Regions from separate parts of the Homo sapiens genome. Here region 1 is linked to region 2. The links come from fine-mapping of genetic effects on plasma protein levels. A gene starts in region 2. The other region holds a variant in brackets. All regions are shown on one strand. Distances are between the middles of the regions. Region 1 overlaps LRP11 (LDL receptor related protein 11). Region 2 holds the start of LRP11 (LDL receptor related protein 11).

Evidence for each region. PIP is the posterior inclusion probability: the model's chance that the variant is causal. The UK Biobank Pharma Proteomics Project read protein levels with antibody pairs (Olink). The fine-mapping took linkage between variants from a reference panel, not from the people measured, so its PIPs are less certain.
Region 1: its variant is fine-mapped to the plasma level of the LRP11 protein (UK Biobank, PIP above 0.99).

What each region holds. Positions count from the first base shown.
Region 1 is chr6:149,837,581-149,846,092 of GRCh38, reverse strand. It overlaps LRP11 (LDL receptor related protein 11), which reads left to right. Exons shown (of 7, transcript NM_032832.6): 3 at 2,969-3,110. It overlaps RAET1E-LRP11 (RAET1E-LRP11 readthrough), which reads left to right. Exons shown (of 15, transcript NR_182438.1): 11 at 2,969-3,110. Among named protein-coding and RNA genes, the nearest start is that of RAET1E-AS1, 22 kb to the left of the region's middle. The variant G/A (reference allele first, on the strand shown) is at 4,818.
Region 2 is chr6:149,860,369-149,868,880 of GRCh38, reverse strand. LRP11 (LDL receptor related protein 11) reads left to right here and starts at 4,522. Exons shown (of 7, transcript NM_032832.6): 1 at 4,522-5,473. The coding sequence starts at 4,861. RAET1E-LRP11 (RAET1E-LRP11 readthrough) reads left to right here. Exons shown (of 15, transcript NR_182438.1): 6 at 1-19; 7 at 101-178; 8 at 3,537-3,665; 9 at 3,884-3,996. RAET1E-AS1 (RAET1E antisense RNA 1) reads right to left here and starts at 5,383. Exons shown (of 2, transcript NR_045126.1): 1 at 4,499-5,383. RefSeq lists an enhancer at 4,211-4,711 and silencers at 4,368-4,817, 4,888-4,947, 5,088-5,197, 5,368-5,517.

The DNA.
Region 1 (8,512 bases), 23 kb after region 2:
GGGAGGAAAAGTTTCCAGAAAAAAGGAGACAGCAGACCCTGGTCTTCCCAGAGCTCAGGCCTCCTGGCCACTGCAGTGACCCAGGCAAGAGACAGGCTGGGGTCAGAGCAAGGTGGTACCCGCGGACAGGGTGATACATGGTCAAATTCTGGATGTGTTTTTAAGGCAGACCCCATGGAAATTCCTGATGGATTGGAGGTGAGATAGAAGGATCATTAAATGCAATCTTGAGGTCTCAAACCAGAGTTCTAGTCTTGTTTTCACTCTTATTTATCTGATTCTCTGATCTTATCTGACCAGATAAGACCTGGTCTTATCCGACAGATAAGACCTGAGCCCCAAGTCTTATCTGATCAGATTAAGACATTATCTGGTCTTGTCCTGTCTCAGACTGACTTCCACTTTTATTTCAGTGGGTTCTGATTCCTAGCATCAGCAGCCCACTCCAGGCTCTTTGGAAGTTCTCTTATTGTCATTAGAGCTCTCTCTGCTGCCCTTAGTATTTTAGCACTCACGTAAATGACCCGTTTGGCATTCTGTCAGTGTAGTTGGGCCTGAAGGTAATGTAACAGCGTGGCAGTGAGCACTGCTTAACATCTCTTTGAAATAAACAACAAAAGGCAGGTGGCCGTCATTGCCAGCCCTCCAAAGTAAGGCTTTTGCAGGGAAAGTGGTGGACAGCTTGTAGGCCAGTGTAGACTGTTTTACAACTCGAGGTCTCAATTCTGTCACTGTCGCAGTGAATGAAAATCACTTCACGGGGATTCGTTTCTTTGTCTGTAAAGAGTCATTGTGTAATGTTCAGTTAGAGATAAGAATCAACCAGTGGAGATGGTGGATATATTTAAGCGCTTACTATGGGCCAGGCCCAGCTCTTTTACATGAGTTACCTTATTTGATCCTCATCAGGTAGGTGCTATTATTACTTCCATTTTACAAATGAAAACAATGAGGTTTGGAGACGTTAAGTGACTTGTACATCATCAGCCAGCTGGTACGGGGTAGGGCTGGCATTCAAACCCATGTCTATTGGACACCGGGTTCTGTGCTCTTAACCACGCACCAGTGTTTCTTTCAGTGTGATCATGGGTCACCTGGGTGGGCTTGGTAAGTGTAGAATCCTGGGTCCTGCTCTCCTGACCAACCCACTGACTCTGACTCTCTGAGGCTGGGACCTGGAAATCCATACCTTAGCTAAAGTGGCATAACATATGACAACCACGGTAATCTCATTATATCTAAATGATTGTAAAGCATCCTATGGGTGTGTATATGTAATGTTGACAAATCCTCTAAGCCTAAGTCAGTCCAAATTCTAGGATTTCCTAATTAAAAACAAGCAGATGGTTCTTATAATAGTACAATCCCATCCTCTGTAATTTCCAAAGTCCATTATTAACGCATCAATGTAATAGAATGTCAAATGGTCAGCATTCTGCAGAGGACAATATCCAGACTAGTTCATTTAAGCAGAAAGGAATTTTTTTAAATAGAATATTAAATAGGTAATAGAATCATTAGGAGAGCTGGAAAAACAGTCTTCAGGCTGACTGTCCAGCAGTGACTCCCAAAATCCTACCACAGAGCTGAGCTTCAGAAGCTGTTGTTCCAGCATGCTCAGCAAGCTGCCTGTGAATGTTGGGAGAGCAGAGGGCAAGCATGGAGCCCTGGGTTAGGGAGTGATCAGAACTGAAGCCCAGGAGGGCTTCTGCAATGAATGACTGGGGGAACTTGGATAGAAAAGGAGGCCAAGGAAGCAGGGGTTTTCAAACAGCCAAAGTGGCCAGCATGGCCAGATACAGTAAGAGGGCCAGTTAAACATGGATTTTTTTTTTTTTTTTTGAGATGGAGTCTTGCTCTGTCAGCAGATTGGAATGCAGTGGGTGATCTTGGCACACTACAACCTCTGTCTCCCAGTTTTAAGCGATTCTCCTGCCTCAGCCTCCCGAGTACCTGGGACTACAGGCGCACGCCACCATGCCCAGCTGATTTTTGTATTTTTAGTAGAGATGGGGTCTCACCATGTTGGCCAAGATGGTCTCCATCTCCTGACCTCATCATCCGCCCGCCTTGGCCTCCCAAAGTGCTGGGATTACAGGCATGAGCCACCGTGCCCAACCAAGCATGGATTTTTTAAAAATAGTATTGTTGGTCTTGACACCTAGGAGACTTTTGCTAGGTCAGTTAGTGAGTTTTGCCAGCACTGTTTCAGGGGGATGGTGGGGAAAGCAGCTACATTGGGTGGGCGAAGACTAAATGGGAAGTGAGCAAACAGAAACAGCAAGCACGGCACAGCCAGGCCTTTCAGGGAGCCAAGTGGAGATGGGAAGGAAGCGGGGCTGTGGCTGGTGAGCCCTTAGAGCTCAGGGAATTTTTTTTATTTGTTGTTTTGTTTGTTTCTTAGGATGAGAGAAACTTGAGCATAGTAATAGCAGAGCCATTTGAAAGAGAAATGAGTCGATGTGTCAGTGTTCTAAAGGTCCTAGAAAGAAAGGGGGCAAGGACTAGAAGGAGGGGTTGGCCTGGAACACAGGAGGGACAGCTTCTCCCTGCTGGCTGTCAGAAGGAAGTGACAGTGGGTACAGGTAGGGTACCAGGAGGAGGTGGGTGGTGGAGCCCTAGTCATGGTCCTGATTTTCTCCCTGAAGCTGATGAGTCCCCCTGCTGAGACGGCAGGGCCTGGATCCTGAGCGTGAGGCTGGGGATGAGGTGCAGGTTTGGAGCAGCAACTGCTGCAGACAAGTGAAGGGATTGTCAGTCAAGGCCTTGGCCACCTAAATAAACTAGAACTTATGAGTTCAAGGTGGGCCAGCTGCCAACAGTGTGTGATGTAGTTCAGCAGCCTCGGGCCGGAGTGCAGAGGCAGGTCCTGGGGCTGCTCTGAGGACATGGACTTTCGGTTGAGGATGGTGTTGGGCTCGGAGCTCAAGTCTGCTGCTCGACGTGATGTGTCCCATCTGTGTGGCAGGTGCCTCAATCAGGAACCCTGAAGCTGTCCCACCTACAGGAGGGAACCTACACCTTCCAGCTGACCGTGACGGACACTGCCGGGCAGAGAAGCTCTGACAACGTGTCAGTGACAGTGCTTCGCGCAGCCTACTCCACAGGAGGTGAGAAGAAAGTCCTTCCCTCGCTTCCCACTGCTTGTGGAAGGCAATGTCGGGTTGGCGCTTTGTCCTCTGGCTCTGCGCTCCATGGGCTCTTCCATTTTATTTTTGGTTATTGCTGAATGAGAGAGTCTTTGCTAAAAACACAATAACAAAAGCAGGCTCTCTTCTGTTTTGGGCTTAGCCGATGCTACTGGGTTGGGGTGGAGGAAGCACTCCAGGGGATGAGAAGAGATGCTCCCGCTTCTCTTGACTCGACTTCATCAAAGACAATTGCTTGGCTATTCTGGGAGAGGACTTTGTTTACAGATGGATGGTCCATTTGCTGCATCTGTTCCAAGAGGGAAGCTAAGGAGTTTAGTGAAACCAGTTGAACTCGTGGAAGCAGAGAGTGGAATGGCGGTTACTGGAGGCTGTGCGGGGGACGGACTGGGAAAGGAGAGACGCTGGTCAAAGGGTACAAAGTGTCACTGAGACCGGAGGAACAGGTTCTGGTGATCTGTTGCACAGCATGGTGACTATAGTTAATGATAATGTATTGTCTGTTTCAAAATTGCTAAAACAGTAGGTTTTAAATGTTGTCATCACAAAAAGATTACAAGTAGGGGAGATGATAGATATGTCAGTTAGCTTGATGTAATCATTCCACAATGCAAACATATATCAAAACATCACATTGTGCCTCATAAATATATACTCTCCTCTTTTGTCAATTAAAAATACATATTAAAAAAACAAGGAAAAGGCATACCACAGGATTGAAGAAAGACTTGGCTCTTGGGTGTAATCAATTGCTGATATAATAAGTCACTTCAAAAATTTTAGAAAGAGAAAAAGAGTGCAGCTAAGGAGTACGGTTAAAATTAATTGAAATACGCAAAGGACCCATCAATTTGAAAGTGCTACCTACACATTTTCATAGACACTTTACGCAGATGCAGTTATATTAATAATATAACTTTAAATACATATGATGGTTCTCACATTCTGTTGTACAATGTAACAATGTAAAACTTATTTCATTCATCTATGTTTCTTACTTTTCTAAACATCTACATTTTTTTTTTGAGAGGGAGTTTTGCTCTTGTTGCCTAGGCTGGAGTGGGAGTGCAGTGGTGCAGTCTCGGCTCACTGCAGCCTCTGCCTCCTGGGTTCAAGTGATTCTCCTGCCTCAGCCTCCCAAGTAGCTGGGACTACAGGTGTGCACCACCACGCCCTGCTAATTTTGTATTTTTAGTAGAGACAGGGTTTCACCATGTTGGCCAACCTGGTCTCGAATTCCTGACCTCAGGTGATCCACCCGCCTCAGCCTCCCGAAGCACTTAGACTACAGGCGTGAACCACCGCGCCCAGCCCAACGTCTACATGTCTAAGAAAGATTAGGTCATCAAATTTTTTAAAATATCCATTGCATGGAACTTAGCGACACTAAAGATATTGTAGTATTGTAGAGGGAACCCCTCACCACACACACAATTCACTTCTGGAGAGGTGCTAAGGTCTTGTACATTTAAATATCCTGTTACTCGGTCATCGTGTATTTTCTTAGTGTATGCAGTGTGCAGGGTCCTTGCCAGGCACTGGGGATAGAGTGGTGCACTGGTGGTCCCTGACTCTGGTAAACTTGCAGTAAGTCTGTGACATTTTTGAATTCTCAGTATTCAATACTCAGGATCCAGATGGTAATTAAGCCAGCAGAGTGCAGAATGA[G/A]GATAAAAGAGTTGGAACAGGACTGTGATTTACTTGTACTATATTGGATCTAGCCTTCTATCAAAAACTGAGGTTAGTATGCATACTGGAAATGAAATTTTCTAAGGAGTTAGAGATTTTAGGATCCTAAGGACTTGTCAACTTTGATAATTTTCATAGGCGGCATTAAAAATTTGTTTGGCTGATGACAACCTGTCCAGCCAGGGGTTAAGCTTACTGTAAGGAAGCAGGGTAACCATTCACAGACAGGACAGGCACCAAACTCCAGCCCGTGCCAGCACTGTGAGGTCACCAGTGATAGCGAGTAAACAGTCTGTCCAGCTCAGCCCGGATTCCATCAGCCCTGCTAATTCATTGCAGCTGGACAGGAGAGCCAGCCAGCTACTCAAAACATTGTTGAGTCCCTTTGCTGGGCAGCTACTCAAAACATCATTGGTCCCTTGGCCACCAGGACCAGTGGAGACATGACATTGTCTCCAGCAGGGATGGCTCACTTCTGTAGATCTGGGCGCCCTCTAGAGGGCTTTCCCCCTGGGTACCGGGACTCACCTGGACAGGGTCTGAGTCAAGTGCTGACTCTGGGAGGAAGGGACTCTTGGGAAAAAGACACAGATACCCTGTCATCCCCACAGAAATCAGAAAAGGATTGCTCTTGTACAGCTGAAGTGCCTGGGAGGGAGGAAGGGCCTGCACTGATATGAGCAGATGGCCAGCACCTCACCGGCCACTTGTTTGTCCTGGTTTATTTCCTCAGGCAGCTTTCCGGGCTCCAGAGGTAAATTGCCAGCTGTAAATTTCTGGCCCTTCTCCAAGATGATAATAAACTGTATTTGAAGTAGCAGAGAGTGGTGTGTGAATCATTTTTGATTACTCAGTGGCCGCTTGAGTATAGGTCTTGTGTGGGTAACTTTATATGGAAAATAAAAAGGAATTGGTGAAGTACTAACTGCTGTCTAGAATCACTTAGTGGTTATATTGGAATAACATGCTATGAATTAAAGTTAATAAAACACCACAGAGAGACATTGGAAAATAGAGGTAGAAGAGACAAGTGTTTCCCTCCCCTGCATTGTATGTATTGGTCTTGCAATGAATGACCCAGATGTTATGGTAACCAAGGGTGACACTAGCTGAGGTAGACAGATGAGCAGGTACCCTGCTTATATGATCATAACTTGGTTCAATTTTTAATAAGTTGACATTTTGAACATTTTTCATGCTTAGAAAAATGATCAAACAGCAAGCCAGCAAGCTCTTCCAACATGATCTAACTCAGCAGTCTCCAAACAGGATGCCCCTGAGTTGTTCAAGACATTTTTAGGGTGAGAAAGAAGACAGCAGAGTTTATATTTTTGCTGATTTTTAATTTTTTTCCTTAAAATTTGAGTATATTTTATAAGATACACCCCATGTTAGTACAGTAGTATGCACGTATTATTTATAAATAAACCGGACTAGCCGGATGTGGTGGGACACGCCTGTAATCCCAGCTACTCAGGAGGCTGAGACATGAGAGTCAGTTGAGCCTGGGAGCTGGAGGCTGCAGTGAGCTGAGATTGTGCCACCGCACTCCAGCCTGGGCGACACAGCGAGACTCCGTCTCAAATAAATAGATAAATAAATAAACTGGAGATGCCTGTTCAACAATATATTATTGATCAGGATGCATGATCAAAAAAGTTTGGAGGCTGCTAATCCAAAAATAGATAGAAAATTTACAAATATGGATCCATCTCCAAAATCACCAAAGAATAAATAAAACCTTGAGATATCTGGGATTTTCATGCCATGAATTTAAGAAACCTGACGAGGAACTGTATCCTGCTTGATATCCAGCGTGTCCCCCACCTCCGCTCCCTGCTTCTTCCCAGTGGCCGGAGCTGACTCTCCTTCAGGCCCATGTTCTCAGTCATAACTGCAGGCTCTTTGCTTCCTCTTCTTCCGCAGGAGCTTCTATCACCATTTATTTTCTTTAACTTCTCTTCCTCCTGGATCAATATATCTTCAAATTGCCTCACACCAAGATAGACTCCTTTTCCAACCTCTTGATTTAACCACGTTTCAATAAAAGATGTGTCCAAGGCCGGGCGCAGTGGCTTACACCTGTAATCTCAGCACTTTGGGAGGCTGAGGCAGGAGGATTGCTTGAGTCCAGTAGTTCAAGACCAGCCTGGGCAACATAGTGACACCCTGTATCTACAAAAAAAAAAAAAACAAAAAAAAACCAAGTGTATGTCCAAGATTTCACTTGGGTTTGTGAACTGTGCTCAGCCATTTGGTTTTGAAGGAATATCATATAATCTGCCACTTCCCCATGTTCCTGAGAGAATTGTCTAGTCCACTCTGTCCCTGTAAAACCGTGGAGCTCCTGTGACCTGCTTCTAGCCTTGTGCCTTAGTCCATGTTGCCAGTACCAGATAGTCACCCGGTTCTCCTCTAGCTAAGTCTAATAAAGTTGGCTTAATCAAGGGAGAGGGAAAATGCATTTCAGGAAAATATTTGTAGCTCCTATGAATTGCACTGCAAATTAAAAGCTCCTAAGAACTCCAGAAGGGAGAAATGTCGTTATTTCTTTCTTTTTTTTTTTTTTTGAGACAGAGTCTCCCTCTGTCGCCCAGGCTGGAGTGCAGTGTCACAATCTTGGCTCACTGCAACCTCTGCCTCCCAGACTCAAGTGATTCTCCTGTCTCAGCCTCCCGAGTACCTGGGACTACAGGTGCATGCCACCAAGCCCGGCTAATTTTTTGTATTTTTAGTAGAGACGGGGTTTCACCGTGTTAGCCAGGATGGTCTCGATCTCCTGACCTTGTGATCCACCCGCCTTAGCTTCCCAAAGTGCTGGGATTACAGGTGTGAGCCACCACGCCTGGCCAATGTCATTATTTCATGAAACTAAATTCATGCCAGCCCATAACTAAATTTTGTTTATTCTCTACAGTACCAGGGACGTTATGATAATCAACAAATAGGATTCAATAGTAAAAACTTAATCTCAGTGAAAAGTATTACTTAGGAGACAAGAATGTAAGACATAGCATATGTAAAATAGTACCTCTGGGCCAGGCACGGTGGCTAACACCTGTAATCCCAGCACTTTGGGAGGCCGAGGCAGGTGGATCAGTTGAGGTCAGGAGTTCGAGACCAGCCTGGCCAACAAGGTGAAATCCCATCTCTACCAAAAAACACAAAAATTAACCGGGTGTGGTGGTGCATGTCTGTAGTCCCAGCTACTCCAGAGGCTGAGGCAAGAGAATCTCTTGAACCCGGGAGGCGGAGGTTGCAGTGAGCCAAGATTGTGCCACTGCACTTCAGCCTGGGCGACAGAGTGAGACCTTGTCTTAAGTAAGTAAATAAATAAATAAATGGTATCTCTGTTAAAACATAGCCAACTGCCATCCAGGGGATGGGATGGTATTAGGTGCCCTCCTGCAGAGCAATCGACAGCCAGAAGAAGAGGTTCCAACAATGGTTTCTATGAATGAATGAATGAAGAGGGAGACAGCTGAGGCGGGGAATCAAGGGTGGAGAGAGACCTGGGCTGTTGCTTCTGTGTGCCACCTCCTGGCAAGGCAAGCATGGAGAACAGCCCTCAGACCAAGAGCCCCTGAGGAGTCTGAAGAATTAAGTCGGGAGGCTCAAAAAGAGCCCTCCAACCTCTCCAGAACCTGTTGCTGGAATTGTTAGGTTTGCCTCAT
Region 2 (8,512 bases):
CTGCATTTCCTCCCTGCCTGTGAGTGCATGTGTGTAAACACGGTAGCTATTTTTTCTTTAAACCAATCTAAAATGAGTTTCTGTTGTTTGCAATCCACAGAGATTTAACTAGGATGAACCTAGATCACTGAGCTGCAAGGCAAGAACTCCATGAGAGGAATTCCAGGTAGAAGGCCAAGTAGGTGCTCAGGGGAGAGATTTGAGACCAGAAAGTGTCAGGCAACTCCTGTCTTCACTCCCTCCCTCTCTCAAGGCTATGTATGCACTGTTCTCTATTTCCTCTTTTCACGGTTCCATTTGTCCCCCTCTGCTGAACAGCTTCTCTCTGCTATCATCCCCTTCCATGTCCCCTGGAGCTCACCTGGCTTCCCAGCTACACTTCCCTCCCTGACTCAATTTGTTGAGTCAGTTTGTTGAGTTGATTTGCTGAGTCAGTTTGTTTCTCAATTCTGTTTTTACATTCCTTGGAGAGAGTATCTGATTGGCTGTGCTTGGGCCAGGCATTCATTATTGATTCCATCCCTAGTGAACAGGGGGTGTGGCCACCTGGGGGTTGGGGCTGCCCCTTCCAGGGACGTGAGCAGAGCAGATTCCATGAAAGGGGTATGGAGAAGGAAGAATCTTAGTGCAACAGCCACTCAGCTGGGATGTTGTAGAGGAGATTCAGGCTTCAAGTGGTTTCATGACTTCTAATCTTAGGAAAGGTCCTTCATTTCTGTTGTAATAACAACAACAACTAGCATTTATTGAACTTCTATAATGTGTCAGATGCCCTTCTAAGCACTTCACATGCACTGACTTAACTTATTCGATGCCTGTAAAAGTACTTAGATGGGCAGTAGAGGGGAGGGGAGGGCAACAAAAAACGATGTCACTAGGGTGTTGCTGTAGATTGGATGTTTGTAACCCCCCAAAATTCCTATGTTGAAACCTAATGTGATGATGTTTGCAGTGGAGAATTTGGAAGATGATTAGGGCATGAAGGTGGAGCCCTCATGAATGGGATTAGTGTTCTTATAAAAAAGATCCCAGGCCAGGCACGGTGCCTCATGCCTGAAATCATAGCACTTTGGGAGGCTGAGGCAGCCAGATCATAAGGTCATGAGTTCGAGACCAGCCTGACCAACATGGTGAAACCCAGTCTCTACTAAAAATACAAAAATTAGCCAGGCGTGGTGGTGTGCGCCTGTAATCCCAGCCACTCAGGAGGCTGAGGCAGAAGAATCGTTTGAACCCAGGAGGCAGAGGTTGCAGTAAGCAGAGATTGTGCCTCTGAACTCCAGCCTGGGCAACAGAGCGAGACTTTGTCTCAAAAAAGAAAAGAAAAGAAAAGAAAAAAATCCCAGAGAGCTCCCTAACTCCTCCCACAAGGTGAGGACTCAGTGAGAAGACTGCTGTCTATGAACCAGGAAGTGGGCCCTCACCAGATATCAGCGTCTGCCAGCACCATGATCTTGAACTTCTCAGCCACTAGAATTGTGAGGAATAAATTTCTGTTGTTTAGAAGCCTCCCAGTCTGTGGTATTCTGTTACAGCAGCCCAGCTAAGACACAGGTTATCTCATTCCAACATTCAACAAACTGACCTACGAAGTCCAATCTCAATTTGATCCACTCTTACTCTTAATGATCTATCTTATAAAACAGAAACACATCTTCCTGACATTTTCATCCTCACATAAAAATTCTTCTATCCATTGATAAGGTTTTGATGTTTAGGCTTTTAAAACAAAGATAGTTTATTTCTGAAAAAAACTGAAAAGAGAACTAGAAAAAGAAGATAAATCACAATGCACAGTGCAATGAAACTTCGTTTTTAAAAAATAGCCTTATTAACATATAATTGACTATACCCACTTAAAATACACAATTTGATGAACTTTGATCAATGTATTCACCAGTGAAACCATCACCACAATCAAGGTAATGAACACACCTATCACCTGCAAAAGTTTTCATGTGCTTCTCTGTAATCCCTTCCCTTCCTACTCAAACTCATGCCTCTTGTCACAAGGTTTCTCCACTCTGGCTGTTGGGAACGAACTATTGCCTGGCCAATGCAAGCTCAGAAGTTTTTCTGCCAGCTTTTTTCTAGTGGTTGCCTCTCTGTCTTGGGAAGTTTCCTCACATGCATGTACCTGGTCGAACTTCTGCTGAAGACTCAGAGGAACCCTGCACAGATCTCCAGAGCTCCCTCCTTCCGTTGCACTCTCTCCTCTCTGGTACTCTAGCCACCCTGGCCTCCCTGAATTCTCAGCTCTATTTTCCAACTCAGAGTCTCTTTTGGTTCGCCTGTCTGCATTGCGGCTTGGAAACCCTCTCCAGGCAGTAAGCTGGAGCAAGCAGCATGTTCACTTCCTTTGTCTCCCTTCTCTTGGGCCCTGCATTGCCTGTTGCCCAATGTCTGAAAACCATTGTTCCATACATTTTTTTCACAGATTTTTCATTTCAGGTCACAGAGTAAGTCCAGTCCTTGTTGCTCCCTCCTGGCTGAAGCAGATGTCAACACTTATTTTTAAAAAATAGAAAATCATTTACAACAAGCTCATTGCAAAAAAAAAATTCAACAAAGTCTTATAAATTATAAAAGTCAGTATTTCCCCTTCAGTACTTGCAACTCACAGCCCAGAAATAACCACTGCTCACGGTAAACACAACATTAAATAATTTCCACTTCTCCCAAAAAGACCTATTGTAAAGTTGCAGATGCAGGAAAATCTTTGATGGTGCTGGAGGGATTTAGAAATGAATGCCCCTGAGAAATGCTGTCCTCTCCCCTGTCCACTTCCCTACCACGGAACATGTGAGCTAGGGCTCACTCTATACTGACTTCTCTTTCACGGTCCCAAAGGCAGGAGTGAGGTGGTCAAAGTCTCTGTGAAGGCACATAAAATCATGTATGTGAAAGTGTTTGGCAAACTTTGAAATCATGTACAATTCTTAGTTAATATTATATATTATCATGTTATTTTTAATATTAATAACTTATATAACAACTAGTCCTTGGAGGGTTTGATGATACCCTCAGTCAGCATTTTCATCACTAGTGAAAGTTTCTCCTCATAACAATCCTGCTCAAGCTCTCCAAGGTCTATGGCAAAAAATAAAAATAAAAAATAAAAAGCATTATGTTGCTTCAAGGTCATCTTACAATGACTGCAGTTGTGTGGGATGAGTATGCCATATGAGGAAGAATCTCCAGGCCGAAGTGGTACAGTCCAGACACAGCCTTTAGAGCTAAGAGGCCATTTCTTTTAGCCTCAAAAATCACTCAAATATACCCCTGCAAAAACTTTATAATTTCTCCCTTTGATGGAATGGCAAGTAACATTGAGCTTTTTTCTTTCTTTTCTATTGCTACCTTTTAATTTTACCTCCTACTCTGATCTGGATCTGCAAGCAATGGGTTCCTAAATGTCAACTCTGGAGATAATAAACACATAGCAGAGACTGATATTTTCCCACCAATTATTTATTCTTTCAATCCTAAAAAATACAGACACTTAACAGTGTTCTATTTACAATGTGCGCATCCAGGCAAAAATTTCCGGACAGGCTAAAAAGCAAGAAAATGCGATCCACAATCAGGAGAAAAATGAATCAACAGAAACTGATTCAGAAACAAACAAGATGCAGATGCTGCTCACAGAAGTCTAGAACGCCAAGGTGAAGCCCCCACTGGGTTGGACATTTTCTTATTCCTTATGTCATTTAAAGCACAACTCCCGAGATTTTACGTGATATAACCGCTAGAGGCCTCTCTGTCACAGGCTGTATTACTCCCAGGTCCCCATGTTGGCTGTGTTCAGATTTTTTGTTATATTTGTGGAAATCTGAGTGCATGTGACGACTGCTATTTATGGGTTTTGTTTTTATTTTTAAAGACAGGGTCTTGTTCTGTCCCCCAGGCTGGAGTACAGTGGTGTGATCACAGCTCATTGCAGTCTCGAACTCCTGGGTCCAAGCCATCCTCCCAACTCAGCCTCAGGACTTACAGGCGAGTACCACCTCACCAGGCTTGATTTTTGTGTTTTTAAACAGACTGAACATCTTTCAGTACTTCCCATCCCCACCCCTCCCGGCCCTGACTCCGCCACCCCAACCCCGCCCCACTTTGTACTACCCAAGCACATCTTGGGAACATGATGCGGAAAGTCAGGGACGCTGGAGGTGAAGGACTGATGACGCGCTACGGTGGTCCTAGGTGCGCGTGCCCCCTCTCTGGAGTAGTCCCGGGGGTCACGAGGATTTGAAGACAGGCCCTCCCTTCCCACTGCCCCCATTCCCCCGAATGCCAAGCCCCTGTGGGCAGGCGCCCTGGGCAGGTGTGGTTGGTTGCTAAAGCCTGCTGGGCCCAGACATGAACCCTGCCCTAGCTGGGCAGCGGCGCGGGAGCAAAGTTGTTCTGAGGCTGCCCTCCCCGGGGCCTGCTCTCCCAGCCCTGGAGGAGCCGGCGCGAGACGCGCGGGGGCGGGGCCGCGCGGGGGGGCGGGGCTCACCAAGGCTCCACCCCGCCGCGGCCACTGTTCGCACACACCTGGTGCTGATCAACGCCGAGGCCGACTCGTCGCCACCCAGCGCGCCGCAGGCCGGGGCGGAGAGGCGCAGGGCGCTGGGCAGTCTCCGGCGAGGGCAAGGAGCGGTGCCCGGCTGGGCCGGCTATGTCTCCCGCTACTGCGGTTCCCGCCGGCGCCCGCGACCTCGGGGGAGCAGCCGGGTTCGGGGGCGCCGCGCTGTGAGGCCGGGGCCTAGAGCCAGCCGCGGCCGCGCAGGAGGGGCCCAGGGCCCGCGCTCGCCCGCGTCCCCGCCTTCCTCCCGCGCTCAGCCCCGCCTCGGCTCGCTGCCCTTGGCTCTCGTCGCCATGGCCTCCGTCGCCCAGGAGAGCGCGGGCTCGCAGCGCCGGCTACCGCCGCGTCACGGGGCGCTGCGCGGGCTGCTACTGCTCTGCCTGTGGCTGCCAAGCGGCCGTGCGGCCTTGCCGCCCGCGGCGCCGCTGTCCGAACTGCACGCGCAGCTGTCGGGCGTGGAGCAGCTGCTGGAGGAGTTCCGCCGGCAACTGCAGCAGGAGCGGCCTCAGGAGGAGCTGGAGCTGGAGCTGCGCGCGGGCGGCGGCCCCCAGGAGGACTGCCCGGGCCCGGGCAGCGGCGGCTACAGCGCAATGCCTGACGCCATCATCCGCACCAAGGACTCCCTGGCGGCGGGTGCCAGCTTCCTGCGGGCGCCGGCGGCCGTGCGGGGCTGGCGGCAATGCGTGGCGGCCTGCTGCTCCGAGCCGCGCTGCTCCGTGGCCGTGGTGGAGCTGCCCCGGCGCCCCGCGCCCCCGGCAGCCGTGCTCGGCTGCTACCTCTTCAACTGCACGGCGCGCGGCCGCAACGTCTGCAAGTTCGCGCTGCACAGCGGCTACAGCAGCTACAGCCTCAGCCGCGCGCCGGACGGCGCCGCCCTGGCCACCGCGCGCGCCTCGCCCCGGCAGGGTAAGCGCGCGACTGAGGGGCCGGCCTTGGCCAGAGCGCTCGAGACCCGCAGCGCCCTCGCCAAGTTGGAAGCGAAACACACTCGTGCCAAGTTATTTTAGCCGCGGGCACCCAGAAGAGTTTCTGGCATGGGTTTCTCTGTCTTAGGGAAGAGGAAGCCCAGTAGTTTGGCAGAAGCGGGCGGGCGGGCGCGGTGACGTGCTACTGGAATTTTTCTAGGCTTGAAGAGAAAGGCTGATCTGAGAGGATTCGTGGAAATATGACTTAAAAGGGGAGAAATGCTGAGAGAAAAAAGTTTGTTTTAGTCTCATGGGTTGTATAAGGCATGGTTTGTGTTAAGTAATTGCAAGAGCAAAATCTAATTAGATGCCGGGCTTCTCGTAACACCCACTCCTTTTTCTTGACGTGGCTCTCCTGACTTTGCCTGCGGTGGCTTTCATCATACAAAAATGGGAGGAAAACTTCTGGTCCCTTTTATAAAAAGTGAAAAGAGGGGACTTGATTTTCGTTGAAAATAAGAAACTTTAAGGCCGGGCGTGGTGGCTTATGCCTGTAATCCCAGCACTTTGGGAGGCCGAGGAGGGCGGATCACCTGAGGTCAGGAGTTTGAGACCTGCCTGACCAATGTGATGAAACCCCATCTCTACTAAAAATACAAAAATTAGCCAGAGCTGGTGGCATGCGCCTGTAATCCCAGCTATTCGGGAGGCTGAGGCAGGAGAATCGCTTGAACCTAGGAGGCGGAGGTTGCAGTGAGCCGAGATCGCGCCATTGCACTCCAGCCTGGGCAACAAGAGCGAAACTCCATCTTAAAAAAAAAAAAAAAAAAAGGAAAAGAAAATAGGAAACTTTAAAGCGTGTTTCTTAAGGACTAAAAATGATGCTGATTCGACGGTTTGACTTTTTGTAGATGCTCTGAATGAGAGAATCAGGACACATACAGGAGGCACAAAAATGGTAGTGGTTGGACATGAATGTCACGGAGGGAATAAGAGACCTTGATTGTGCCCACGTGTGGTCAGGCTCCGTGTGTTTAATCATGCCCTGTTGCTGTTTGATTTATAATAGCACGAATGATATCAGCAAGATGGGGGCGGAGCTCAGCCCCTTTGGAAGTGTGGATTCTCCAAAACCTGTGGATCCATTGAAAGAGTCTGGAAATCTGTGTCCATCACATCCTGCCTCCCTCCCCACCTCTACCTTAGATGAGGCTCAGAATCCTTGTCAGGGGAGCAGATATCAAAGGGTCACCCTGCGACTGCTTGGCCTTGAGGCAAACACTGGGAAGGACTCCATAGCTTTCCTTCTGAAGTGGAGGCAGGCAGCACTTTCACTTGGACCCCCCATCAGCATCTCTGAGGCCCACCACGGCTGTTGCACACACATCCTCTCTGCCCAAACACAGACCAAAATATCCCAGCAGCAAAGAAACAAAGTCTTTTCTCTGTGTTCTCACTACTTACCTGGAAGAAACTGACATTGCCAAAGTGAGCTTTCCTATAAACCCAGAGGAAACCTTTGAAAAGGAAAATAAACAAGGAAAGAATATGCCATAGAACAAAAATTTTAAAGTTTAGATTACTTGGAGACGCCAGGCACGGTGGCTCATAACTAACCCCAGGACTTTGGGAGGCCAAGGCGGGTGAATCACTTGAGGCCAAGAGTTAGAGACCAGCCTGGCCAACATGACAAAACCCGTCTTTGCTAAAAAGAAATAAACACAAAAATTATCCTGGCATGGTGGCGCCTGTCTATGATCCCAGCTCCTCGGGCGGCTGAGGCAGGAGAATCGCTTGAACTGTGGTGGTGGAGGTCGCAGTGAGTACAGATTGCGCCACTGCACTCCAGCCTGGGCAACAGAGGGAGACACTGCCTCAGAAACAGAAACAAAAACTTCAGGTTACTATGAGAAGTTTCTGGGTTGTTTTTCCTCTTGCTTGCTTCGTTGCCCTTCCTTTCCCCAGGGGAGTTTGTCTAGGAATTGTTTTGTAGATGTTTGGGATGAAAATAGGCGAGCGCGGTGCTGGTCCTCATTTCTGGGAGAACACTGCTGTGCTCAGACTTCCTGAGGTCCCAGCAACATGGAAACGCGGAAGGTGCGGCTCAGGTTCCTGTAGAGGCTCATTTGTTCTCTCTGCGTGGAGGTCAAAAATTGTTCCCCAGTGTCCTGTGTGTCCCCTGCTCAGATGCTTGACAGGTTGAAGTTGTTTATGCTTCAGAGACTAAGTTTTTCCTTCTTGAATTGTTCGTTTTTGGGTTGTGAGCATGTGAAAATGGTTTAGAAGAGCCCTTGGAGAGGAGCTGTGACTGGATCCATCTGAGGTGGATGAAAGCACCATGAAGAAATGGTGATGGGATAGCACGAACTTACAGCAGGACACACCAGCCCTGTTTTCATGCCCACATTTGTTGACTTTGGTGTTAGGTGCTGTCCTCAGCCCTTTGCACGCATGAACTCACTCTGTCCTCACAACAACACAAAGGCCTAGGTTCTGTTATAATCCCTAGTGTATACAAGGCTTGGCAAGCGAAAGTAACCTGCCCAAGGGTCACACAGCATGGGGTTGTGGAGCCTGAACTCCTATGCTTTCTCCAGCAGCACCAGCAGAAGCTGAGAAAGGGATCACTAGGCTGGGACTGCGAGGGTAGAGGTAGGGAAGGCGGGAGGATGCAGGAATGAGTGAGAGATGCTGGAGAGAGGTGTCTTGTAGTGACTGAGCCTGCCTGCTAGAATCTGTAGAACAGAGGAGGGTGCTTGAAGTTCTGGGGCCTGGCGTCTCCACAAACAAGTCCCTGCTCATGCCCCCAGGACTTGGTGTCTGCTTGTCCTCCATCCCAGGCTGTCGTGAGGTTCAAGGGGGGACATGCTTTGTGAGTTAGGAAGGTGGCACGCATGTACATGATACTGTTCTAGGAACCTGGTTGGGTCATGCCCATGACTAGAGGGTTGGGGGACTGGATGTCATGATAAAAAGTGAAGAACAGCAGGAGGGAGGGAGGGAGGGAGGAGAGGTAGAAGCTAGAGCTGCTAGGATTCCA